4 linked regions of the Homo sapiens genome follow. The protein of the gene in region 4 purifies or fractionates together with the protein of the main gene of each other region. This does not show direct contact. Each region holds a gene or a part of one and is shown on either strand. Other genes may lie near its edges.

Region 1 (5,482 bases), on a different chromosome or scaffold from region 4:
TAAAAGTTTTCTTTCTCCAACCTGAGGGCACGGCCAAAAAGATCTGGTTATTTTTTAGCCAGGAACGTGCTTGTTAATGAGTATGTCTGGAGGACAGACCTGCTCATTAGGTGTGCTGTCCCCTGTAGCCTCGTGAGTCAGCCCAGAGGAGGGTACATGCGACTGTGGCCTGGCCTCAGTGGTACCCACACATCAGCACTACCACAAGAACCAACACTGAGCCTCGGAAGCTAGATCACAGGTTAGGGGTTTCTCTAGATGGGGGTTCTGAAATTTGCAGTGTCTGCTCCTGGGAGGCAGCACCAGAAAGGGCACTGAAATGTACTAGCTGGATGTGACCCAGTCTTAATAAACAGGTTTTCTAATCCAGATCTTCCGACTGTCTTCAAATTCTTACCTTCTGTTCTTTAGATTAAATGCACACAAAATTGAAAGATGATTCTGAAGGGCAGTTTCCTCAGGGTAGCAGTTTTCAAATGATTTGGTCTTAGGACCTCTTTACACTACTAAAAACTAAGAAACTCAGGTTTTTGTTTTTTTTTTTTTCTTTTTAAATAACAAATTTATTTTTCACAGTTCTGGAGGTTGCCCCAAAAAGCTTTTATTATCTAGATTAAGGTTAATGCACTTTTAAATCATAATGTTAACATTTTTTTTCTTAATAGAGACAGAGTTTAGCCATGTTGCCCAGGCTGACCTTGAATTCCTGAGCTCAAGTGATCCGCCCACCTCAGCCTCCCAGAGTGCTGGGATTACAGGCATGAGCCACCATGCCCAGCCCACGTTAACATTTTTTATGAAGAATAACTTCCAAAACAATCCAAGGAGAAGGGTGGCATTTTACAGTCTCTTTAGTATCTTGTTATAATAAACAGTTGAATTCTTACAGCTGCTTCTACATCCAAACTTTTTTGTTGAAGTAAGTTGACTTCACACAGATACGCAGTTGGAAAAGTTTTTAAAATAGCCTTTTCAGCTAATTGTGGCTATTCTTTGATACCACACCAAGACTACAAGTGATTTTTTTTTTTTTTTTTTTTTTTTGAAATGGAGTCTCGCTCTGTCACCCAGGCTGGAGTCCAGTGGCACGATCTCGACTCACTGCAACCTCCACCTCCCGGGTTCAAGCTATTCTCCTGCCTCAGCCTCCCGAGTAGCTGGGACTACAAGGGATCTGCCACCACGCCCGGCTAATTTTTGTAATTTTAGTAGAGACGGACTTTCACCATATTGGCCAGGCTGGTCTTGAACTCCTGACCTTGTGATCCACCCACCTTGGCCTCCCAAAGTGTTGGGATTACAGGCGTGAGCCACCGCGCCCGGCTTACTACAAGTCATAGTTTCTTAAAGGCAATGTAGACTCCGAAAACTTAATGCACTCTTATATTGTTAATACATTAAAATCCACTGGCCTGTCTTACACTTTTGAATCAATCTTTGAGCCATGCATGATTTTGTAACATCACGTACTGGTCACTTGGAAAAATGGTTCATTGAATTCTTCCAAATGAAATGCATTTCATTATACAAATCACATTTGTTAATATCCCCAACAATAAAGCTCATGGTGGAGTACAGATTTTCGGAAATTCCAATTTTTGCTTGAAAGCTTTATCACTGGCAACACTATCAGTTGTTTCCCTTGAGGTGAGAGGCTCATTCCATTAATTTCCAGAAAATATCAGCCAAATATTCAAGTCTAAATACCGTAATCTGCTAGTTCTTTCAATTCTAAAGGGCATGCCTTGAACACAGCCAATTCAGCTTGCAACTCAACTGTGTAACTGCTTTTCCTCAAGGCACCCATACTTCAGTGCACAGCAGAGGGGCTTTATGCATGCTTCCAGTTTTCTCAGAATATTATAAATTCTCAAGGTCAACTTTTTTTTTCTTTTTGAGACAGGGTTTCACTCTTGTTGCCTGGGCTGGAGTGCAATGGTATGATCTCGGCTCACTGCAACCTCCACCTACCGGATTCAAGCGATTCTCTTGCCTCAGCCTCCCGAGTAGCTGGAATTACAGGCATGCACCACCATGCCCAGCTAATTTTGTATTTTTAGAAGAGACGGGGTTTCTCCATGTTGGTCAGGCTGGCCTCGAACTCCCGACCTCAGGTGATCCGCCCGCCTCAGCCTCCCAAAGTGCTGGGATTACAGGCATGAGCCACTGCGCTGGCTAGGTCAACATTTAATAGTTAACCATTGCTATTTGTTCTATCAAGGACATATCAAAACTACTAGAAGTTTGCTGCCACCACCTTGATTCATGCCACAGTGCCAACAGTTGACCTCACAGATCCTCCCTGAAAGGGTCTTGGGACTCCCAGGATCTGCAGGCCGCATTCTTCGAGAACCACTATTCTAGGTACAGCCCCACTGTCCTTCTAAAATCTAAGGTCACAGCTTAAACTTCAGGGAAGGCTGTAGTTTTGGAGGCCATTGTCACATTAGAACCCATTTAGAAGTGACTGTCAAGAGACAACTTGAGTGAGTCTGAAACTGCCTGCTGATGGCAGTGTTTCTCAACTGGTTTAAATCGCCAGTCCCCTAGGAAGCCTTCTTCCTGATCACTCCCTGCCATGAAAATGGAATATCACAGACACACTATATGTGCTGTGGGCCTTAGGAGGGCCACAAACAACTGCTTGTGATTTTTTTTTATCCTTACTGAAGAACCAATTTGCATCCCTGTTGAGAATACAGGGCTTGTGGCCAGTAATAACTCTCCCTTTTAGGATTCCTGTCTTTCCCCATTTTTTTTCTATCCCCAGTTGCCATCACAGCGTAACGGTGCAGGGAGGTATATGAGGGTTGCTAAGGGAAAGCAGAGGTGCCCCTCACTCAAACCTACATTCAGAAAAAAATTTCCTTCATTATTGATTGGATGTCTTAAATGCAAAGACTTACACAGAAACTGGGAAGGGAGGACCTATTTCAGACAAGGATTCACCATGGAATTTTTATGAATATCCTTATAAAATAGGACTTGGGATGCAGATGGATTATTTCTTTAAGTCTTGCAACTTCAGAAAAGCCTGAGACACATACCCCCTCCTACTATATATAGTGATTATAAATAGTATATTTACCTCCAAAAAATTTAACACTGTGCCCTAATGCAAGAAAAATCTGTGGTATAACAATGTACTCATGTTCTGTAGCTCTTTACTGAAGGCCTCATGTCAAAGGCGGGGAAGGAAAGCAATTCTGTGGCTCTGCACTTCTACCCAAGTCTGAAGAGAAGTGAGCCAAGTTAAATGAAGGTCAAGGATGCTCCTCCTGGTCCTCTCAGGGGCTGGTAAAGTCTTATATGACGTTTTCTGGGGAGTCATTACTCTGTCCAAAGTCGAGGTAGCTCAGAGGCCTTCAGGCCGCTGATACTTCCAGAAGGCCACCTCCCCATCATCACTGCAGGAGGCCAGTAGCCCTGGCTCCTTGGGGTTCCAGGCCACACAGTTGACATCCTGGGAATGGGCCTGATGCAAGTGGGCTGTCAGGGAGAAGGTGGGCTGCTGTGGATCCGAGTTGGGATCCTCCTGAAACACGCGGATCGCGTCATCCCCACAAGCTGTGGCCAGAGCCCCTGTCAGCTGACACCTGGAAGGAAAGTGACATCAGTGGGTATACCTGACTAATTAGGCCAGAGAGACCTGTTCCATAGTTCCTGGCCTGTTCTCTTCCCTAACTTCAGGCCTCAGCTAAAAACCTCTTATTAAAATGTTTCCTTAACTAATAAGGAGTCACAAATATCACCCACTTATATCTTCAGATGCTGCAATCTAGTTCTTTCCCCTACTATGATTATCCTAAAAAACGACATGCAATTATGAACTGCACTTTCCTCACTTGGCATAAGCAGTTTCCCATGTCATAAAGTTGTTTTTTTTTTTTTTTTTTTGAGATGGAGTCTTGCTGTGTCGCCCAGGCTGGAGTGCAGTGGCACAATCTTGGCTGACTGCAACCTCCCCCTCCCAGGTTCAAGCGATTCTCCTGCCTCAGCCTCCTGAGTAGCTGGGACTACAGGCATGTGCCACCATGCCCGGCTAATTTTTGTATTTTCAGTAGAGACAGGGTTTTATCACATTGGACAGGCTGGTCTCAAACTCCAGACCTCAAGTGATCCACCTGCCTCAGCCTCCCAAAGTGCTGGGATTACAGGCCATGAGCCACTGGGCCCAGCCATCATAAAGTTTTTTTTTTTTTTCTTTAGATGGAGTCTTGCTCCATCACCAGGCTGGAGTGCAGTGGCGCAATCTCGGCTCACTGCAACCTCCGCCTCCCGGGTTCAAGCGATTCTCCTGCCTCAGCCTCTGAGTAGCTGGGATTGGGTGCGTGCCAACACGCCCAGCTAATTTTTGTATTTTTAGTAGAGACGGGGTTTCACCATGTTGGTCAGGCTGGTCTTGAACTCCTGACCTCATGATTCACTCACCTTGGCCTCCCAAAGTGTTGGGATTACAGGCGTGAGCCACAGCGCCTGGCCCCATCATAAAGTATTCTTAACCCCTTTCTTTAAACAGTGATACAACAAGCTGAGTTCTACCATAATTTACTTAAGTTCACTTTTGTTGAATAGGTGATTCCCAAATGTTTGCTAATATAAAGCAAGCTTAAGTGCTCAGTTTTTTTCACTGTTTTGGATTTCCTAGGGATCAATTCTCAGGGCCAGAACTACCCTCTAACCTACTCTCCTATATGAATGGTGCAGCTTTTCCAGCTTCCACAAGGCCAGAGTCAGTGTTACCTATAAAAACCCCAGCCACTGCCAGGTGCGGTGGCTCATGCCTGTAATCCCAGCACTTTGGGAGGCCAAGGTGGGCGGATCATGAGGTCAGGAGATCGAGACCATCCTGGCTAACGCGGTGAAACCCCGTCTCTACTAAAAATAAAAAATTAGCCAGGCATGGTGGCGGGCGCCTGTAATCCCAGCTACTTGGGAGGCTGAGGCAGGAGAATGGTGTGAACCCGGGAGACGGAGCTTGCAGTGAGATGAGATCACGCCACCGCACTCCAGCCTGGGCTGCAGAGTGAGACTCTGTCTCAAAAAACAAAAAAACAAAAAAAAACCCTCAGCCACGAATGCAGATTCAATAATAACTTCTGGACAGCACGAGCTGTGCGAACCTCTAGCGCTGGTGCTACCCTCACAGCCTGGGACTGTTCTCTGCTCCTGTGAATGCCAGCCCAGCCAGCTGTAAACCAGCATGGTAGAGTCAGGCCTGATAAGGAATGGGGGTGGCTGCCCTCAATTCCCAAGCACTCCCCCAGGGTTGCAGAGGACTGCATAGGGTATGCCTTCTCTAAAATCCCTGATTTATGGGGATGGGATGGGGTGGGGGGATGGAGTCTTACCAAGCAATGTCATAAATGGTCCTTGAGTGGAAGCCGGACAAAGTACAGATACATTTCCAACTGGGGTCAGAGCCGCTGCATGCCACCCCTGCAAGACAGACTTCTCTTGCCCTTAAACGTTCCTATGTCCT
Region 2 (7,033 bases), on a different chromosome or scaffold from region 4:
ATCAATAGAAAAATTCCAACATTTATAATTTATTATGGCAAAACCTCAAAGTTAACACAACTTCCGCAAATTGGTTGCTTTGTTGAAATTTTGCTAAATGTTGTTACTAGAAATCACATTCCCAGTTTGAAGAGCTGAGATAGAGACAAATACCCAGAACCAACATCCAGCTACTTTCAAGTGAAAATTGCAGCAGAGCCAGTTTTTTTAAAAAGCATGTTAGCATGATACACACAGCTAGATTTTCAGGATTTTTTTAAGCTTATGAAGATGAGATAGGATGGTTGTGGCAAAGGGCTGCAAAGACAAAGAGCAGAGCCCACTCTATCAAATGCTAGCAGCCCAATACCTGCCCTGGAGAGCCTCTGTAATCAAGGAAGCCAGGCAAGTCCTGAATGAAGCAGCAATCAGCAGCGCACTGCATCGCCAGGCGTGAGGGCAGAATGAAGCTGGTGACAGCGGGGCCAAAGAGGAAGGTATAAACACATAGTGTTATGGGGGAGGAACTAGTAAGATTTGGTAGATCACTGAATATGGACAAACAAAAGAAGTCAAGTCTGAAATCTGTGTCTCTGACACAACGCTAGAAATAGAGATGTCGGATATGGTCTAGGGAGCAAAAAAGAGATCAGTTTGGGGCAAGCCAAGTTGGAAGAAAGGCCAGGTTAGTCAAATGCAAAAGCCCTGAAGGCTATTAGCAGGACTGCAAGGCTCTCAGCTGAAGTTGCTGAGAATTGCTTAACCTGAAAAAACTGAGAAACCACAAAGCAAAAAAGACTAGAAGAGAGGATCAAGTTAAAGCTATCTCCTGAATGCTCATGAAGAGTTAGAAAAGATAAGATGAACTGGAACAGCAAGTATTCTGCACAGAACCCTAACCTCAGGAGGTCACCCAAGAAAAAAGAAAGGTAACCTGGTCCACAAGTCTGGGAAATGAGCGATGTGGCCCCTACTCAGAAGGGGACACTGGAGAACAGACCTGGTGATGCTTCCTAAACTCCTCTAACGCAAGACATCCTGAGAACAGCGTTCACCCTCTGGAAACCATGAATTGGAAATGCAAGAGAACCAATCTAATGAATCAAGTACAAATCTAAGAGTGCCTTCAAGAGAAGTATTGAGATGCTTTTAAAACCCAGGAAGTTTTAGATTTTTAAAGAAAAAATGTGAAACAACTTTGTAGTTAAACCATTATTTTACAGGTTTAAAAAGTGTTCTCCATGGACACCGGGAAGGGCACAACACTCACTGGGGCCTGTCAGGGAAGGTGTGGGGACCAACACCAGGGAAAACAGCTAATGTATGCAGGGCTTAATACCTAGGTGATGGGTTGATCGGTGCAGCAAACCACCATGGCACACGTTTACCTATGTAACGAACCTGTGGTACCCTGAAACTTAAAAAAAAAATTATTATTTAAAAAAATAAAAAGTGATCTCAACATGACACCACCAATAACATGTAAATGACACAGGCTTTGATTGTGTTGTCTCCCATATGCTTTAAAATTTTTTTAATATAATTCCTCTGATAGTATTTAGGATTTAAACAAGGACTAGGGTGAAGCAAAAATTATTTCTAGACACTAAACTTATAACCATACTCATTAGGATCCTGGCCTCTATGGCACTTCCCACACTGTGCTACAAAGAACCACGAATATTTCCAGGTGCTCGTTCCAAGAGAAAAAAATGAACACATCAATTCACTCCATATCAAATCTCTACTGTAAAGACCTAATTTTCCACATTCGATGATTTTAAAATCAGTATGTGTTCTACAAAACATGTTAATATGGTAGGGGAGTTTTCTTCCTTCAAAGGTAATTTCTTATTAAATTAGGAGTGGACCTTTTAATATATATGAATGTAGGTATGTATACATATATACATACCCTATAAGATATATCTCCCTGTAACAGCAGCAAAACAAATTAAGATTTTAAAGGCCCTTCAATATGCCACCTGGCATTTCCTACGTTTATTCACAGATCTTCCCTCCTATTCCCATACCTTACATATCACAGAACACAGACAGCCAAATATTGGCCTAAATAAAAATCCTGAAAATGCAGTAAAACAAGTAGAGTAGTAAGGCAGAGCTCCATTATAAAAATACCAGTGACCAAAACAAACAAAATCTTCATAATGTCGAGAGAACACATACAGTACGTTTCACCTGTAAAGCCCCAGCTAAACTGCAGACATTAAACACCCACCCCGCCCCCCGCCGCCCCCACCCCCAACACACATACCCTGTATAGGGCAAAGTCCCCTATATATAGAACATGTAACAAAGGCACTACTGAAGAGCCAATTTCAGTATGTGTCTTCAGCATTCCTAACCCTTCTTCCCTTTGTGTGTTTTGAGTCCCTTGTTGGTAGGACCTACTCTACACAGATGCCCAAGTAGCCTTTCATCAACACATCAAATAGGAGACCCTCTCATTTCAGTAGTCTCTACTTTATGATTGATGTAATATATTCCCATGCTGTGTGTCAAAGTCCATCCTCAACCAGGACTGCATTAGACAGCCTTCTGTCCCATTTGAGGTATCTCCAAGCAGCAGAAAGCTGAGGGCAAGCAGCTAGGGAGTCACAAAGCAAGCTCGGCACAGTCTTTGGCTCATACCAAGCACTGAACACAAATTGAGTATCCTTTATCTGAAATGCTTGGGTCCAGAAGTCTTTTGAATTTCAGACTGTTTCATATTTTGGAATATTTGAGGTATCTTGCGGATGGGATCCAAATCTAAACGGGGAATTCACATGTTTCATATAGACCTTATACACACAGCCTGAAGGTAATTTTACTTTCCCCTTGGGGACACTGAATAAACTGTTGTGCACCTGCATGTTGACCGTGGCCCATCACATGAGGTCGGGGTGAAATGATCCACTTGTCACATCGTGTTGGTAACTAAGGAAGTTTTAGATTCTGGAGGATTTAGGATTTTCAAATTAGGGATGCTCAACCTAGACTAAGGGTTATTATTGCATGTAAGATAAAATGGCAAGCAAACGTTTTAAAGATTTTACGTATTTAAAATGAGAGAAGTCAGAAGAATCAGTCTGGAATTTTTCTTCTCCACCATCCCCCACACCAAAGTCTCCAAGTTCCTATAGATAAGCTTGAAGTTTGGGGAGGGGGAAATGGCCTAGTCTTCATGTCTATTCCCTGAATTCCACTTGGGATCAAAGAGTCTGGTTTATTGACATCATCTAGGATTCCAAACCTTTCCTTCCAGTCTCACCAAAGCCTCCTTCCTGCCTTGAGAAAAGGAGGTCTGAGCTGTCAGCCTTTTTCCCCCGTTCTGACTTTCGGATGCCTATTAGGCACACGTAACTATTTTAGTTAGCATTTAATTAATTTCGACATAGCAAAGGTGCCCCCTCCCAGCATTAGGTGACACGTTTCTGTGCAACGGTTTTCTCATAATTACAACAGTATTCCTCATTTGTACTATTTAGCATACACTTCTTAAATAATTGATGGTAGCCTCTGAATTTTCCAAGCTACTGCAGAAACTAGACCAAAATACTTTTTCTAATTTTTAGCAAATTCTTATCTTAAGCATAATGACATTAAGTTTAAAGATTAATTTAAAACACATCTACTATCACTAGGAGTTGTGAACTAAGCAAAAAAAGTTCACACTATTACTAAAAAAAAGAAACTTCCACACTGAAGACAATTCATTAGTACCTAATCTAGTGTTACAATAAACCATCAAAACATCAATCAGTTTCATGAGATTAGGACAGTTTCATGGAGGGCATTAAATGAGGGGACTAAAGTATCTGAAGGATTAAGATATGGGGAAATAAATGAGAAGAAGATTAGTCCAGCAAAGGAGAACCTGACCGCTGGAAATACAGCCCAACGGAAGTCAGATATTTAACCCTGTGCATCAACACACCTGGAAAGGGGCTGCCAGTACGGCAAACACTAAGTGATTTCAGCATTAAACTAAGCAGAAATGTCTTCCTTGCAAGTAGCTCCCCTGCTTCTCCTGTTTTGGGATTTCTTGATTTTATAAATTAATCCACTGTACTATAAATATATGTGCACTGTAGAAAGTTGGAGGAAAAAAAAAATAATAACCTACTGCTAAGAGAAACTAAAAATAACTCCACTGCTCAGAGACAATCAATGCTAACATTCTGGTTTTCATCTTTTTAAAAAATGCATATACTCACACACCAAAATAAAGTTTAGCTATTACTTACATATGTTGTTTTATGTTGCATTTTATCATTAATACTAACTAAATGTTCATTAAATACAGTATTATGGAAGTTAAAGATTGATCTAAATGCTGAAATAATCATCCTTAACAACAGCAAAAAAACGAAAACAAATGCTTAAGAGGGTATTAGTTAAATAACAGCACACCCTGGACAGAATATTAATCTAGTAGTCATTTTTTTTGTATTTTCTTAGACTAAATTCTTAGAAATGGAATAGCTATTTCAAAGCACATACATATTTTACAAGCTTTTGTTACGTACTTTGCTCTCAAAAAATCATATTAAATTACACTCTTTCTAGCAAGGTATGAGTGAGCTCATTTCTCCATACCTTCACCATAAGTAGTTCATTTTTTAATCTACGCCAATTAAAAAAACAACAACAGTATCTCACTGATTTGCATTTCTGGGAGTACTGCTAGTAAAGCTGAAAGTTTTTTCATGTTTCCTGCTCCTCTTTTTATAAATTACCAGTTTGCCCATTTTTTTCCACGGGGGTGGGGGGGGGCCGCTTTTGTTGGTGGTGTTCACATGCCCTCTTTTTACAGTAAGGAAAGTAAATTTGCTTGTAAGTTACAATATTTTTCTGTTTGCCAGTCACCTTTTAATTCTGTTTATGGAATTTTAACACAGAGAAGTTTTATTATTCTAAAGTACTCAAATCTTTTCCTTTACAGTTCCCGTGCTTGGTGTTATATCTAGGTCTTCTCCATCTTGAGATCGCCATGCTGTTACTTTTTGGTTCTTAAATTTTTTCTTGAAAAAATATTTTAAAAGCACCCAAGCTTACCCCCCTAAAATGACAGCCATTTTTACTACTTTAAATATCCTCACGGCCGGGCGCAGTGGCTCACGCCTGTAATCCCAGCACTTTGGCAGGCTAAGGCAGGTGAATCACGAGGTCAGGAGTTTGAGACCAGCCTGGCCAACATGGTGAAACCCCGTCCCTACTAAAAATACAAAAAATTAGCTGGGTGTAGTGGCAGGCACCGTAATCCCAGCTACTCGGGAGGCTGAGGCAGGAGAAGCGCTTGAACCCAGGAGGCGGAGGTTGCAGTGAGCCGAGATCACGCCACTGCACTCCAGTGGGGGCGACAGAGTGAGACTCTGTCTCAAAAAAAACAAAAAACAAAAAACAAAAAAACCTTCACTAGTACATACACACTTTATACATATTTTAAATGGCTGCACCCATTTCATACAATCTATTTTCCGAAGTATTTTCTAACACAGACCTTTAAAAAAATTGCAGCTTGTTATATTTGAACAGTCTTGAATGGTTTTATAAATTTTTGCAAGGCCAATGAGTCATAACATCACACCCAATTTAACAATAGCCCCAAAGTTCCAGAACTGTTCGTGTCTATGCTATCAGTGCCCAATTACTCTCCCACAATGTTACTAAAAGACCAGGAAGAATAAGCTCATTCTTGGTAGTGGATCACAGTTCTGCATAATGAATTCTGCCATAATGATCAGATATCAGTCCTTAAAGCATTTTCATTTTAATCTCTTCTAGTCTTCTTCCATCTTCACATAAACTAGTCAAACACTCAGGGAACATCTGGTTAAAAGCCTGAGCTCCGGAGTTATCCTGTCCCGTTTAACTCGGGCTTGACTACCTTCCTAGCCCTTACCTGCACCACTCAAAGTCTCAGCTCCTTCACCTATATTCTGTAAAGTGGGTTAAACCATAGTACCCACACTTCAGAGGGCACTGTAAAGATTTCCAGTGGAAGGATGTATGTGAATGTTGATGCATGCAGTATGCTAGGCACTGGGGACAGATGCATATCACAGTGTCCCTGTCCCAAAGGAGGTCAGTTTGGTGGGAGAAACCACCAACTACAATCAAAAGGTTAAATACTGTGATAGTGACATAGGCAGGACAACATGGGAACCCAGAGAAGGCTCCTAACCCAGACCAGGACATCAGGGCCAGCTTTCCAGAGATGGTGATGTGTGAGCCGTCAGGTGATAGAAAAGGCAAAGAGTCAGATCCAGAATGGAACTGCAATAGCGCTGAAGCATGGAGTCAACACTAGGAAAGGCAGACCAGTGCTTACTTGGTCCAAGTTTCCCAAGGGAAAAAATTTAACTATCAAACTTAGGCTTCACAACCCTGCTTTTTAAACATGAATACAATACTTAATGTTCTTTAAGACCGTTTTTCCAAAATCCTGTTAATGTTAAAAGCTGTGGCATTCCCATGGAATCCACATACTTTCGGGGCCTAAGGAAATCAACAGTGTCAATTAAAAACCATCTCATTTTAAAAACGAGGAAATATATGCCCTGCAAAGGTAAGCTTGAACTAGACTCCATGTCTTCTCTCCCAAGCAAGATGTTCTATACCTAAGCAAAAATAAATGACTTCAATCTCTCTCCCTCACGGAATTTTTAGAAATGAAACACCTCCATGAGTGAATAAAAAACTTAAGTCATTAAATGTTATAATAATTCTGTTTATAGTGTGTTTACTAAATCTTCATATTATAAACAGGAAACCTCCTATAAACAGGAAATTATGTCCTCAGTAGTAAACATAAGGCTTTTATCCAAATAGGATCTATTTTTCATTTAATGCTCATTTCTTCATTTGGAAGCAAAACAAACACACTGATAAACTACCAAATGTTTTTAAAAAGCAAGGCAACCTTAGAATTGGCCCTTAAAATGGTTAACACTCTTTTCTCCAGACATACCTAAAAGACAAGTTCAAAATGAAGCTGACAGTCCCCCAAAGACATTTTATTCCAGAATGACTCAAGGTCACTGGCTTT
Region 3 (6,957 bases), on a different chromosome or scaffold from region 4:
AAAGGGTGCTCCTTCTGCATTTAAATTTGCAGGCTGCTACTCTGAGTGACTGAACAGGAAGCTAGCTGGTCCCTTTAGCGCTAACAAAGCTTGATTTAGGCTGAAAGATTAGAAAGCACATCTTATTCTATAAACGCTTCAACACTCTGTTATCCTTCAACAACCCTAACTAGGGCTGTGATCTAAGATTGACAATATTAACTTAATCCTTGTCAAATTTGTTTTCATTTTATGGCTCCCTGGCTCAAGGATCTACAACAACTCTTAGTACAGATAACAGGTCATTCAAATTTCTCTGCCTGGAATCCAAAGTTATACACAATCCAACCCTACCAAACCTTTTCAACTTTTATCTGTTACTATTCCTTTGTACCAACTTTCTTTTCTTTTTGTTTTTTTGAGACGGAGTCTCGCTCTGTTGCCCAGGCTGGAGTGCAGGGGCGCGATCTCCGCTCACGGCAGCCTCTGCCTCCCAGGCTCAAGCGATTCTCCAGCCTCAGCCTCCTGAGTAGCTGGGATTACAGGCATGCACCACCATGCCTGGCTAATTTTTGTATTTTCAGTAGAGCGGGGTTTCACCATGTTGGCCAGGCTGGTCTCAAACTCCTGGGCTCAAGCAATCCGCCTACCTTGTTCTCTCAAAGTGTTGGCATTACAGGCGTGAGCCACTGTGCCCACCACCAACTTTCTTTTCTTAGGAGGGCTAAATTACAACAGGGCTAGTGTTACAGTCTTAAATCAGTTGAGTTGAATTCAAATTAAGCAACAGTTTAGACCATTTTTTTTCAGAAAGAAACAAAAATATAAATTTTGCAAAAACGTTTGTAAGAATTTAGCAGTCCCAGTGGCTCATGCCTGTAATCCCAGCACTTCGGGAAGCTGAGATGGGAGGATGGCTTCAGTCCTGGAGTTAGAGACCAACCTAGGCAACATGGTGAAACCTCGTCACTACAATACAAAAATTAGCCGAGCGCAGTGGCACACTCCCTGTTGTCCCAGCTACTTCGGGAGGCTTGAGGCAGGAGGATTGCTTGAGCATAGGTCGAGGCTACAGTGAGCCATGATTTCACCACTGCACTCCAGCCTGGCAGACAGAGAGGGACCTTGTCTCAAAAAAAAAAAAAAAAAAAGAGAAGAATTTGCAGTCCTTATTCAAGATAAGTCCTTATTCAAGATAAGACATTCAAGATGTCTTTTCAAAATATGTTCTGAATCAAAAAAAAATCCAAAATTATTGTTTTCGTATCGCATAAATGTGAAAGACTCATCACAAATGACACTGATATAGTAATGTTCTATATCTTCGTAGGGGGTTGGATTGTATAGGTGTATGCATTAGTCAAAATCAGTGAACGTACACTTAAAGGTTTATATATTCCATTTTACATCAAAATAAACCGTCAACAAACTCTAGTCAATGACATGCATGCCAAAGTATTTAAAGGAAAGTGTACAGGTATCTGCAATTTAAATGGATGGATAGCTATATGATAAAGCAAGTAATATTAAAATGTTAATGGTAGGATAGATCCTAAGTGATGTGCTCCTTATAAAATTCTTTATACTTGGCTGGATATTCGAAAATTTTCATAATAAAATATGAGGGAAAATGACATTGGTAAGACACTGTACTTGTAAATTGTAAACACTGATAACACACTACATTTCATAAAATTGTAAGATGTTAAGTTTGGTGGCAGCACCAGGTATTTGCTCCTTGATGCTTCCAAACTACGCTGCACACACCTCTTACAGAATGGTTGCCTCTCCCAGCATACTATAAGTTCCTGGTGGGCACAGATCTAACCTAATTTGTATTTATATTCCTATTGCTTTGCATCATGTTTGGGGAATAATATGTATTCAACAATAGTGGCATGATTGAATTAAAGTGGAATACTGCTAACGAACAAAGTATTATATTTCTAGCAGATTCACTATTCTTTTCTTACATATTCTAAAGGTTAATACGCTCAATATCCAAGAGAAATGTGTCCTTACTTCTCTCCAAGCATACGAAATTTCCAAAGTTTTTTTAAAAAAACTACTCATTAGATAATTTTATATTGTTACTTAAACCCAAGATCTGAAGGCCTCCTAACATTCAATAACTTTTTAGTAGTTTTTTTTTTTTCCTAGAAGAGCAAAGTCTCAGAACTCCACGGAAGCCTGGAAATCGTTTTATTCTAATTTTAGATAAGCTGTCTGAACTAAGAGATCTCTGAACTGGTCAAAAGCAGGAAAGTGGGGGTCTGGGAAGAAGACAAAAACAAACGCCACATAAAACGTCATGGAGCAAACTAATCAAGAACTTTAGCAAGAAACGGAGAGAAAGTCTTAAGGAGGACACCCAGAACATCTCCAGCTCCTCCTGGCCCGTCTCCTCAACTCCTCTTAATTCCAGCCAGTCAGAGCGCGGGGCCATCTGCCACTCCCAGGATGCCACGCGACGGGAGCGGACGCTGCGAGGATGCACCTCCACACGTCAACCTCCCACAAACAGCATGGCTTCGTGGCGTGAGCACCCGGTTCGGACCTGAACGCCTGGGTCCGAGTCCCACCTCCCCCTCCTGCCTGGTCTGCAGCCCTGCGCAAGTCCTCTTGCCCTCGCTGAGCCTCAGTTTCCTCATCTGTAAAATGTAATGATTCCCTATAATTGGCTACAGGGAGATGAGAAGTGTAAATGGTTTTAAGGAAGACACAGGCAACTCTCTAACTTGTTACGGCTCTGAACCTCGCGGTGCTCACTAACCAGCCTTGAGACCAATCTCTCAAAGTCACCCCGCTCCTCCCTTCCCGCCCGGCGCCTGTACTGAGGCCGCTCCCTCCTGTTGGCCCCCATGCGGAAGGCGCGCGGCGCCGTCTGCCGTACCTGCAGCCACCTGGTCAGCGGGGCCCTCTTGCTGACCCACGACGAAGTCGTGCACGAGGCCCCATAGGGCACCCATAGGCGCCGCCGCCTCCACAGCCGCGGCAGCGGCCATAACGCGAACTAGAGACCGTGGGAGGGGATATGGGCGGTGGCTCGAGACGGGCTCTCCGCGCATGCGCCTCCCGAGCCAATCTCCGGGGAAGCGCAAGGGGGCGGGGCGCCGGGGTCACGTGCCTGCCGGCTTCTGCCTAGGCAGTTCCAGGGAGGGGCGGGGCCTGAAATGGGGCGGTGGCACCGAGAGGGAAGGCGGCTGCTGGGCACGCAGCCGGAGGCGATTGAGGGCGAATAATTCCCAGCCCGGCTCCCCGGGAGACGGGCTGCGGGGCGGGCACCTGGCTGGGTGGGGAGAGGGGCGGTACGCACCACGGGGGAAGCCAATGAGAAAATCAGGCCCAGCCCTAGGGGGCGGTGCTGTCGGTCACATGCGCACCTGGGGCGGGTGGTGGCGGCGGCGCGGGCACCGCGAGCCGGCGGAAGGGAGAGGGGCCGGCCTGGGGCGGGGTTAGGCAGGTGAGTGACAGGCTCCAGGGGGCCGGCCCCTGCCTGGTGCCCCGAGCGAGCCGGGAGTAGCTGCGGCGGTGCCCGCCCCCTCTCTCCGCCCCTCCAGCGGAGCTGGTCTCCGGCCGGGCACCGTCGCGGGCCCCCCTGGCCCGGCCACCTGGGACCGTGCTGGGGAGTCTGCCACTTCCCTCTCTCCCCTGGCCCGCAAAGTTTTGGCGGAGCCATCGCTGGGGCTGAGCGCGCCCCCGGGGGGAGATCGGGGAGCGCCCGATGCCGGGCGGCCGGAGCCATTGACCCGGGACGCCGCCGTCCGCTGAGCAGCCGACCACCCCGCCGCCTCCGGTGCATGGGGACTGGCTGAGGAGCCAGCATGGGCAACTGCGTGGGGAGACAGCGCCGGGAGAGGCCGGCAGCCCCGGGACACCCCCGCAAGCGAGCAGGTAACGATGGGGAAGGGAGCAGGGCCTCGGGCATCCCGCCAGTTGTCCCCCTCCTCGCCCGAGTCCTGGGCTTACCGATGGACTCCCCACTGGTGCTGGCGCTTGGGTTTCCCCGATGGGCTGCTCCGCAGCCAGAGGGGGCCGCTCCCCAGCGCCGGGCGGCCGGGGGAGCTGAGTTGGGGCAACTGCGAGCACTGAGCCGGCTGCGCGACCAACTCTCTCCAACTGGGTAGCTCCTGGTGGGGGTGGGGGCAGGAAATGTTTGCAGACCGCAGCGGGGCCGACGGATCGGGAGGAGGCCGGGGGCGAGGGCGCCGCTGGCCTGGCAGCTCCGGCCGGGGTCGGACGCCGGCCCGTCGGGGCACGGCGCGGGCAGCCAGGCGTCCCCAGAACTCGGAGCGAGCGAGGCGAGAACAGTCGCTCCTTCCAAAGACTGTGTCATTATCGAGCTGCAGATCGTGTCTGCGGGAATCCGACTTGCAAAGCAGCGCAGGACTCTGGGAAAGAAATCTTTATTTTTCCCGCAGGGGTTTTTAGAGCCTCTCGGCCGTCTGGGAGTCTATAAAAGATGGGGTGCGGGGTGAGAGTCACCCTTGGGATTGTTGGGATCCTTCCCAGCTTTGGGAGTGAGATCGCTCGCTGGTGATCCTCCAGGCCCGCGCAACGCTTTCTCACTTTCATGGTACACCCCGCCTGCCCTGGCATTTCGCCCCGGGAAGAGGTCTGTCGGTCATTTTTCTGGGTCTTACACTCACTTCCTTCTTTGAGGGTGTTGCAAGGACCCGCTGGGAATAATATCGTAGACTTGAGAGCTCAAACTTGTCTGGATTCCAGATGGACCCATCTCCTACTCTGTGTCAAAGCCCAGATCCTGAGAGGTTGAACACCTTGTCCAAAGTCACACAGCTAGTTAGGAGCTCACCTGGGGCTAGAACTCAGCCTCCTCTCCCACCCCATTGCCACATATCCCCTTATGTAAGAGGAGCCACAGGCAGAGTTGTTAATGAAGTGGAAACTCTAGTTGGAGTTTCCTGTCTCCCTTGACACCGAAGGTGTGTTGCTTGGGTTGCGGAAACTGGGAAGGAAGATGGGGGAACCAGGGGAAGCAGGGAAGGATGTCTGCATGGTGGACAGGATGACTTGTGGAGGCAGAAATGTGTTTTTATGGGAAGGATGCAGTAAAACTTATTGAAATTCTCTTGTCTGAAGGTAACTCTGGCCATTCTTCTGGCTGAGGAGAGATGACTCTCAAAACCAAGGGCTGGCTTGCTTTCATTCATTCATTTGTTCAACAAATATGTGTTCAGGCCCCATAATTGATTTTGCAGCATTTTTTGCTGTTGACAACTCTCTCCTACGAGACATTCCCCCCCTTCCTTTCTTGGCATCAGACTGTCTTGGTTTTCCTTTCTGAACACCCCTTTCCACCATCACCTTCTAGCTTGGGGGCACGCTGGTGCTTAAGTTTGACATTCTGTTTTTTCTCTCATTACACTCTCTCCCAGAGAAATCTTGTTCAGTCCCACAACTCTTTGTCCATTGGGAATACCCCTATGCTTAAACTTCAGCTCTTCTCTCTTGAACCCCAGAACCCCATCTCTAGATGCCCACTGGACACTGTGATATAGATATTCCCAGATTTAACACCTCCAAAACCAGGCTCTGCATCGCTCCCTGTCCACCAGCTTTCCTTCTTTACTCTTATGTTCTTCCAGCTGCCTAACTTTAGGCTGTGAAGAGCTCTTTCTCTCATGACTTTCTCTGCTTCCTTGTCGCCTGCCTCTCAGCCAGTCATTGGGGTCTGCTGGGTCTTCCTTCCGCGGGACTTGCAAACCTGCCCCTTGCCACCCTACTTTGTACCCTTCTCACCTCAAGTCAACCCTTGTCTCAGGCTGAAGTGAGGTACCCCCCAAAGGCAACTTCATCTTCAGTCATCATTCAGTCCTACACACAGTTGTCCCCACAGAAGACATTTGTTAAATTAACTTCTTCCAGATTTTATAGTTCTGTGTTCAGAATGTTTCTGTACTTGGCCAGGCGTGGTGGCTCATGCCTGTAATCCCAGCACTTTGGGAGGCCAAGGCAGGTGGATCACCTGAGATCAGGAGTTCGAGACCAGCCTGGCCAACATGGCAAAACCCTGTCTCTACTAAAAATACAAAACTTAGCCAGGCATGGTGGTGGCAGGCGCCTGTAATCCCAGCTACTCAGGAGGCTGAGGCAGGGAGATTGCTTGAACTGGAAGTTTCGCAGAGGTTGTAGTGAGCTGAGATTGCGCCACTGCACTCCAGCCTGGGTGACAGAGCGAGACTCTGTCTCAAAAAAAAACAAAACAACAGCAACAACAACAACAAAACACCTTTCTGCATTTTCCCACTCCTACAAGTACTTTAACTTTCAAGGCTGTTCAAGTGTGGGCCAGTCCTTTCTTTTAAGTCCTGATTTCTTTCCCTTCTCTGACATTAAGACCACCAGTGTTTGCTCGTGCCATTTCCTTCTTATCGAGAGTCTTTCATCCTTTGGGTTCATTTCAAGTGCCGTGCCTTGTTTGAAGCACCTTGCCTGACAAGTCTGCCATTTCCCCCTCCCTCCGCACCCCACCACACACACCCCGTGGAAGTGATTGCTCCTTCTGAGAACTCCTGCAGACACATTATCTATGCCACTTACTTAACAATTATGTACTCTGTATTATTAATCATGTCTTTGATGTTTACAGTCTTTTATCAGCAACTACATTGCAAGCCTTGAAGACCTGGGTTCTGTCTTATCCTTGTAGTATATGTCTCTCTCACGCACACACACACATTCAGCACTTAACACAATGAGTTGTACAGAAGTAGCACTCAGTATTTGTTGATTTTAGAAAGCAAACTCAACTTCATCCTACCATCTGCATTTTTCATATATCTGCATTTTTTTTTTTACCTGCTAGTTTATCATTGCTTTAGTTCTGTGGGTCCTACTATGAATAGCTTTATTCATAAAGTCCAAAGCCGAGGGGAACTCTGTAGGATGACAAATTTGGTACAAGGGAAGGAATCCTTCTTAACTCCACAGTGCACCTGGCATTCCTGTAACATC
Region 4 (6,510 bases):
TTGAAGCATGATTTGGGGGAATGGAAAGCCTTTAAAATTTACAGGGTGACTTGTTAAATAACTTGTGTCTGAGTTCCACATAGGTTGTTCTTAAAGCAATGCTCTCTCATAGTCTTTTCCTTAAAAGGATATGTGGACAACCTAGAAAGTGTTAGAAAGAAGTTGTGTTGTATCCAGTTTTGCAAGATGACACTTGTTCCAGTATCTTTCAAAACAGCTCAGCTTGTACAGTAGATATCTAGTGAATGCTCAGGGGCATCCTTGTTACTATTTTTATTATTTCTGAAAGTAGTGTGTTTTAATACGTGGTATTAGAGCAATGGAGAAGTGTATTTAGGTGACAAATTATATTTCAAATATTTGAAAGTGACGTTTAGCTAAAAATATATTTTTTAAAAGAAAACATATATAGTTAACTATCAGGTTACTAAATGTAAAAGAAGTTAATACTGATAAACATTAGTCATTAAGTAATACATGATAAGTAAAGCAGAATGATCTATTTTCCAAGCATTAGCAGAGATTTTGGAGATAATAAGTTAGTTATCATATATTCAAACAGTGCCCAGTACAGTGCAAGACACTGTACATAAAGTGTCTTGATATAAAATGCAAGTCTAGATTCTTCTGAATGATTCTTTATGACTTTTAAATTTATTTGATAAGATTTGAAAAGTCTTCTTAGCCATAACATTAAAAAATTTCTTTAACATTTAAGAAGTGTTAAATGGAATAGCATAGTTGTAGAGCTGTGAAGAACATTTGAGCAATGATAGCAAATAAACTTTTTTACTGATTTGCATTTCAATGTATGTATAATTTATAAATTAAGATAGATTAGCTCATAGTTTTGGAGGTGACACAGTCTCAGATGATGTGCTCTTTTATGTTTCTAATTTAAGTTAAAGAGGAATTAAAGGTAAGTGAAGGTAAGTGCAGATATACAGCATAAGTAATATACTTAGAACTCAGTAAAAACAAGTTATTCAATAATAAAAGTCTGGAGAAATAATAGCTAACCTTATACTTCCTATCATCTGATACTTAAAAATGCTTTCTTATAAGATTATTCTTTACCACGCATTTAAATATTTTAATGATTATTCAATTATATTTTTCTATTTTCTTTATTATTCCTTAATGTAATTTAGGCTTTATATATCTTAACCATTTGGGTTCTGTGTCCTACATCGAGATGGAAGTTTGCTGGTGATAAGTCAAATATTTAAAGGGAACTACCTTGTGAATTATCTTCGTCTGTTAAAGCATAGCTGTCTACCTGGCAATCCATCATATCTTAGTCATATTTCTTTCTAGTTTTCCCTCACCTTTTCTGTTGTCCATTTATTCTGTTGTCCATTTATTCACTTCTCTGAACAGTCCTTCTGTGTTACTTAAGGATTTTATTGTTAATGTTGCTTATACTTTCCATGCTTTGGAAGGTGTTAGTCTCCTGTTTTCTACAATGTGATACTGAGTTTAAAACAGTGCTTGTCTTCATTTTTGTTTTGGCTCAGGCCTTCAGCAGATCCTTTAATGGGTGCTGTCACTTTCATGATTATTGGGATCAAATACCAGTAACTACTCTTATTATTTACCTTATCATAGGATTGTAGTTTTGAGTCATTTAATACTATAGTTACTGATTAAGTTCATATAGCCTTCTTTAAACAGATTCTGCTTTCAAATTTGAAAACAATATATTCTCTCTCTTCACTCTGTATACTTAGAATCTCACTGAAACTCAATTCTGGTGAACTTAAAATGTATTCAGAGTTCTTGCCTATATTCATATAAAATGTGTCTACTCACTGAGTAGACACATTTTATATGAATATAGGCAGGAACTTTGTTTTGTGATAAATAAGGAGATGCTGACAGTAGGTTTGTGCTTTTTACCTAATACAGGGTAAAAACTTTTATTTCTACATTTTTCTTCCCCCATTATCTCTGCCACCATCCCTTAGACTTCAGGAGCATAATGACCCAGGTAGCTAGGGTGGAAACTGAGCATGTGGACCCTACATCTTTTGGGGAGGGTGGTGAAAAACTGTGTCATGTCAGGTTAGATCTGAATCTCTAGGAGAATAGCTTTTTTGATCTGTTTGCTCCTTTGAGTCTCCCTTTTACTTTATCCTTTGAAAACCAATTGCATACTTCACTTCCATTGCTTCCAGATATGGCATATTTTTCTTAGGCTACTGTTGAAATTTAGCATAATATTTCTCCCTTACCTTTCTGTCCTTTTAAAAAAATAGGACTATAGTAAGTCCTCCGTGTCGGTGGTATGTTTTTGGAAACTGACTTTAAAGAAAACATACAGGAAGTCCTCAAATAGTGTCATTTCATTATAATGATGCAAACAAAACAACTACCTTTGTTATACGTTATTTTGCTTAGAGTCGCAGTTTCTAAGAACCTATCGATGTTAAGTGAGGACTTAATGGTATAGACATTTTGAAATATTTGAGGGAGTTGCAGTTTGGAAAAATTGTATAGAGTCTTCATGTCTCTTCTTATTTCTTTAAAAAAATTTAGAATGGAATTTTAATCTGATAAAATGATAATCAGATCCATTTTGGCAAAACCCAGTGAATCTGGCATTTCATGATGGACCTAAGGGTCAGAGCAGGAGAATGGCAGTGAGGCAGGGCTTGTGTCTTGAGGAGAGGCACTAGGTGATTGGTAGACAAAACAGTGGGCAGTGTAAGGGGTGAGGAAAGACAAGCTAAGAAGGGGAATAATGGGGATTGGGTGGTGCACAGTGGGTAAAGCTGGCATTATATTCAAAGGAAAAACTTGGTTAAAGATTGGCAGTGGGAGAAGAATTTCAGATCATAGGGTTGCTTCTCAGGGCATTTTTAATAAGTATTCAATATATACTAAAACATTTTATCTTGAGTTTGTGATTAAGATGATTAACATTGTTTCTTATTTTAAGGGAAAATAATTTTAACAAAATGCTGCTTTGTGAATTTTAAATATTTAACATATTTAACTTCTCATTTAAAGACCAGAAAAGATTGTTATTTTGATTAAATAAAAATTGGCTTTAGTAATTCAACTTTATATTTAAAATAATTTTAAACTTCCTGTTATGGAAAAATTTAACATCGAATAATACAACGAATCCTCATGTACCATCAGCTTCAGCAGTTATAAACCTGTGGGCAGTCTCCTTTCATCTATACCATTGCTCATTCCCATATCTACTCCGCCATTAAGCTAATCACAGGTGTCATATCAACTTAAAAATTAATATGACTGAAAGCATAAGCTGTTGTAGTTCCACATATTTGCGTAATGTTTATTAGTTTCTTTCCTAAGACTGTATGTCTTAAGAAATTTGCCCTTTGTATTTTGTATGTGCCATTTGGGGAATATAAGGAAAAGTTAAATTTCTGGAAATTAATGTGTTCTATGTGTTTAGTTGGAAGTAATTGTTATGGTAGTATTAGCTTACTTGCTTTTTTGTTGTTGTTGTTGCAGCCGAGTGCTGTTTTAGAAAATAAAAAGTAAATTTAAAATGTGTTTTTGAGTTAAGCTAGATATCACCCCAGAGTACTGTGATTTTTCAGTTACAATCCATTTGATATATTCTGCAGTAAAATTATATTTCATGTACAGTTTTCATTTTGTATTGTTCCTTATATCACAATTGCAAGTATTTTGGTTGTTCTTGTTGATATGTAAAGAACAAATTAACTACTCCTTATTTGTTCATGGTATAGACATAATGAAAGACTTCAATATAGTTGAAACAATCTTTTCCACATTTGCCTGCTTTTATGAAAATATCATTCATTCAGAGTACTTGACATTTGAATATGTGCTGTGAAACTTCTTCTTTGATATTTTCTAATTCTCAGCTATGTTCCCTAATGGGTCTTGTATCTAGTGCCTGGGTAGCATAGTGTGACTGGGATAAAATGTCAGTTATTCCACAGATTTTTTTTTATTCTTTGTAAGTGAATGATAATTTTTACTATGGCTACAGTTTAATTGATCACTCATTATATATTTAATTTTGGAAAATAATTTCATCTAACCCTACCATATATAGATATTTTTGGCTACAAATACTAAATAAAAATATGGCAAATATATTAAATCTTTGTCTATATAGTTTATTTTGCTTTAAAATTTGAAGATAATATTTATTGTAATTGCTCAATACTGACTTCTTTAGCTGATCGATTATAGTTAGGGCTGTTTTTTGCCTTTATTACATTTCTAGGGAGGATGTTCAGATTATAAGAATCTTTTTATAAGTTAGCTTGGCAATCTTGCTTCTGTGGATTGTCTCATTTCCATTTTGGATTTTTATATTGTAAGTTGTTGCTAAAAATTATTTTTTTCCCTTCTTCCACTTACCTTTTGGACCATGAAGGATATATTAATTAAAGTCAAGCTGCTATTGAGTTTTGTGTCTGAATAATTTCTTATACACTTATCATGAGATTTACTTCTATCATATAAGTACTGCTAGTAAAACCAATGAATGTTTAACTCCTTCATAAGCAAAATTATTTTTATGTGATCTCTAAGAAATTCCTCCTTTCACATTTTTCTGTTTTCATACAGGTCCTCATGCTGATACCGCCAGTGGATGCCAGAATTTGCAGTGTGGTTTTCGAGCCTGCTGCCGCTCTGGCGAATGACCCTTGACTTCTGATCTTTGTCTACTTCATTTAGCTGAGCAGGCTTTCTTTCATGCACTTTACTCATAGCACATTTCTTGTGTTAACCATCCCTTTTTGAGCGTGACTTGTTTTGGCCCCATTTCTTACAACTTCAGAAATCTTAATTTACCAGTGAATTGTAATGTTGTTTCTCTTGCAAATTATACTTTTGGTTTAGAAAGGGATTAGGTCTTTTCAAAAGGGTGAGAACAGTCTTACATTTTTCTTTTAAATGAAATGCTTTAAAGAATGTTGGTAATGCCATGTCATTTAAAGTATTTCATAGATAATTTTGAGTTTTAAAGTCCATGGAGGTGATTGGTTCTCTTTACACATTAACACTGTACCAAGCTTTGCAGATCTTTTCCGACACACATGTCTGAAGACTTATTTTCAAAGACAGCACATTTTTGGAAACTAATCTCTTTTCCGTAATATTTCCTTTATTTCAATGATTCTCAGAAGGCCAATTCAAACAAACCCACATTTAAGGTTCTTTAGGATTATAGAATAAATTGGCTTCTGAGTGTTAGCTCAGTGAGCTAGGAAAGCACCAATCGATATTTGTTTCCTTTAGGGATACTTTGTTCTCACCACTGTCCCTATGTCATCAAATTTGGGAGAGATTTTTTAAAATACCACAATCATTTGAAGAAATGTATAAATAAAATCTACTTTGAGGACTTTACCAAGTAATACTGTTGTGTTGTGATTTTTATTATAAATCTCAATCCAGGTTTACTTTAGTATAGAATAGGACTACATACTTTGTCTTTGGACCTCCCATGAACTTATTACCCTGACAAATAGTTTTAGACAGATACTGAATTTTATTGAGCTGAATTTTCTTTTTGAAATGAGTTATTCAGTAGTCAAAATTTGAATCCGTAAGTATATCTACTTTGCTTTGTTAAAACATCATGAGAGTGGAGGCCTGCCACCCAGAAAGGCACATACTAGTGCCTTTTAGTACAATTTTATGTCATGTAGAAGAAAATGGCAATGTTCCTCCTATTGATACAGATACAGGCATATGTCATCTTATTGCGTTTTGCTTTATTGCACTTTGCAAATAATGCATTTTTTACAAATGGAAGGTTTATGGCAACTCTGCGTTGAGCCAGTCTATTGGTGCCATGTTTCCAATAAAACTTCTCCTTTCATGTCTCGTATATTGTGATAATTCTTGGAGTATTTCATAGTTTTTCACTATTATTAAATCTGTTGTGGTGATCTGTGGCCAGTGATTGTTGTTACTATTGTAATTGCTTTGGAATGCCATGAACTGTGCCCTAATAAGACAGAGAACTTAATTGATAAATATTATGTATGTTCTGATTGCTCCACTGACCAGTGGTTCCTGTCTCTCTCCTCCTCAGACCTCCCTCTTCCTAGAGACACAACAATATTGAAATTAGGCCCCAGCTTATAACCTTGCAGTGGACTTTAAGTGTTGAAGTGAAAGGAAGAGTCATGTCTCTCACTTTAAGTGAAAAGCTAGAAATGATTAGGCTTAGTGAGCAAGGCATGTCGAAAACTTAGGCCCAAATCTACGCTTCTTGTGCCATACAGCAAAGTTGTGAATGCAACAGGAAAGTTCTTGAAGGAAATTAAAAGTGCTACTCCAGTGAACACCCAATGATAAGAAAGTGAAACAGCTTTATTACTGATATGGAGAAAGTTTTAGTGGTCTGGATAAATGAAACTAGCCATAAAATTCCCTTAAGCCAAAGCCTAATTCAGAGTAAGACCCTAACTCTCTTCAATTACATGAAGGCTGAGAGAAGTGAGGAAGCTTCAGAAAAGGTTGAAGCTAGCAGGGGTTGAT

What was found.
Region 1: the proteins of FBXL5 (region 4) and CIAO1 purify together in Homo sapiens (affinity purification with mass spectrometry; 3 studies listed by BioGRID and IntAct, with this or other methods). This does not show direct contact.
Region 2: the proteins of FBXL5 (region 4) and CUL1 purify together in Homo sapiens (affinity purification with western blotting; 12 studies listed by BioGRID and IntAct, with this or other methods). This does not show direct contact.
Region 3: the proteins of FBXL5 (region 4) and MMS19 purify together in Homo sapiens (affinity purification with mass spectrometry; 5 studies listed by BioGRID and IntAct, with this or other methods). This does not show direct contact.

The regions. Positions count from the first base shown.
Region 1 is NC_000002.12:96,269,225-96,274,706, reverse strand, and holds the end of CIAO1 (probable cytosolic iron-sulfur protein assembly protein CIAO1), read right to left. Parts: intron 5,440-5,482; coding exon 5,352-5,439; intron 3,597-5,351; coding exon 3,356-3,596; 3' UTR 534-3,355; downstream 1-533. UniProt on the Homo sapiens protein: Key component of the cytosolic iron-sulfur protein assembly (CIA) complex, a multiprotein complex that mediates the incorporation of iron-sulfur cluster into extramitochondrial Fe/S proteins.
Region 2 is NC_000007.14:148,701,882-148,708,914, reverse strand, and holds part of CUL1 (cullin-1), read right to left. Parts: intron 1-7,033. UniProt on the Homo sapiens protein: Core component of multiple cullin-RING-based SCF (SKP1-CUL1-F-box protein) E3 ubiquitin-protein ligase complexes, which mediate the ubiquitination of proteins involved in cell cycle progression, signal transduction and transcription.
Region 3 is NC_000010.11:97,495,401-97,502,357, forward strand, and holds the start of MMS19 (MMS19 nucleotide excision repair protein homolog), read right to left. Parts: upstream 3,023-6,957; 5' UTR 2,985-3,022; coding exon 2,873-2,984; intron 1-2,872. Other genes in the region: UBTD1 (ubiquitin domain-containing protein 1), read left to right, coding at 3,804-3,873. UniProt on the Homo sapiens protein: Key component of the cytosolic iron-sulfur protein assembly (CIA) complex, a multiprotein complex that mediates the incorporation of iron-sulfur cluster into apoproteins specifically involved in DNA metabolism and genomic integrity.
Region 4 is NC_000004.12:15,603,874-15,610,383, reverse strand, and holds the end of FBXL5 (F-box/LRR-repeat protein 5), read left to right. Parts: intron 1-4,584; coding exon 4,585-4,661; 3' UTR 4,662-6,003; downstream 6,004-6,510.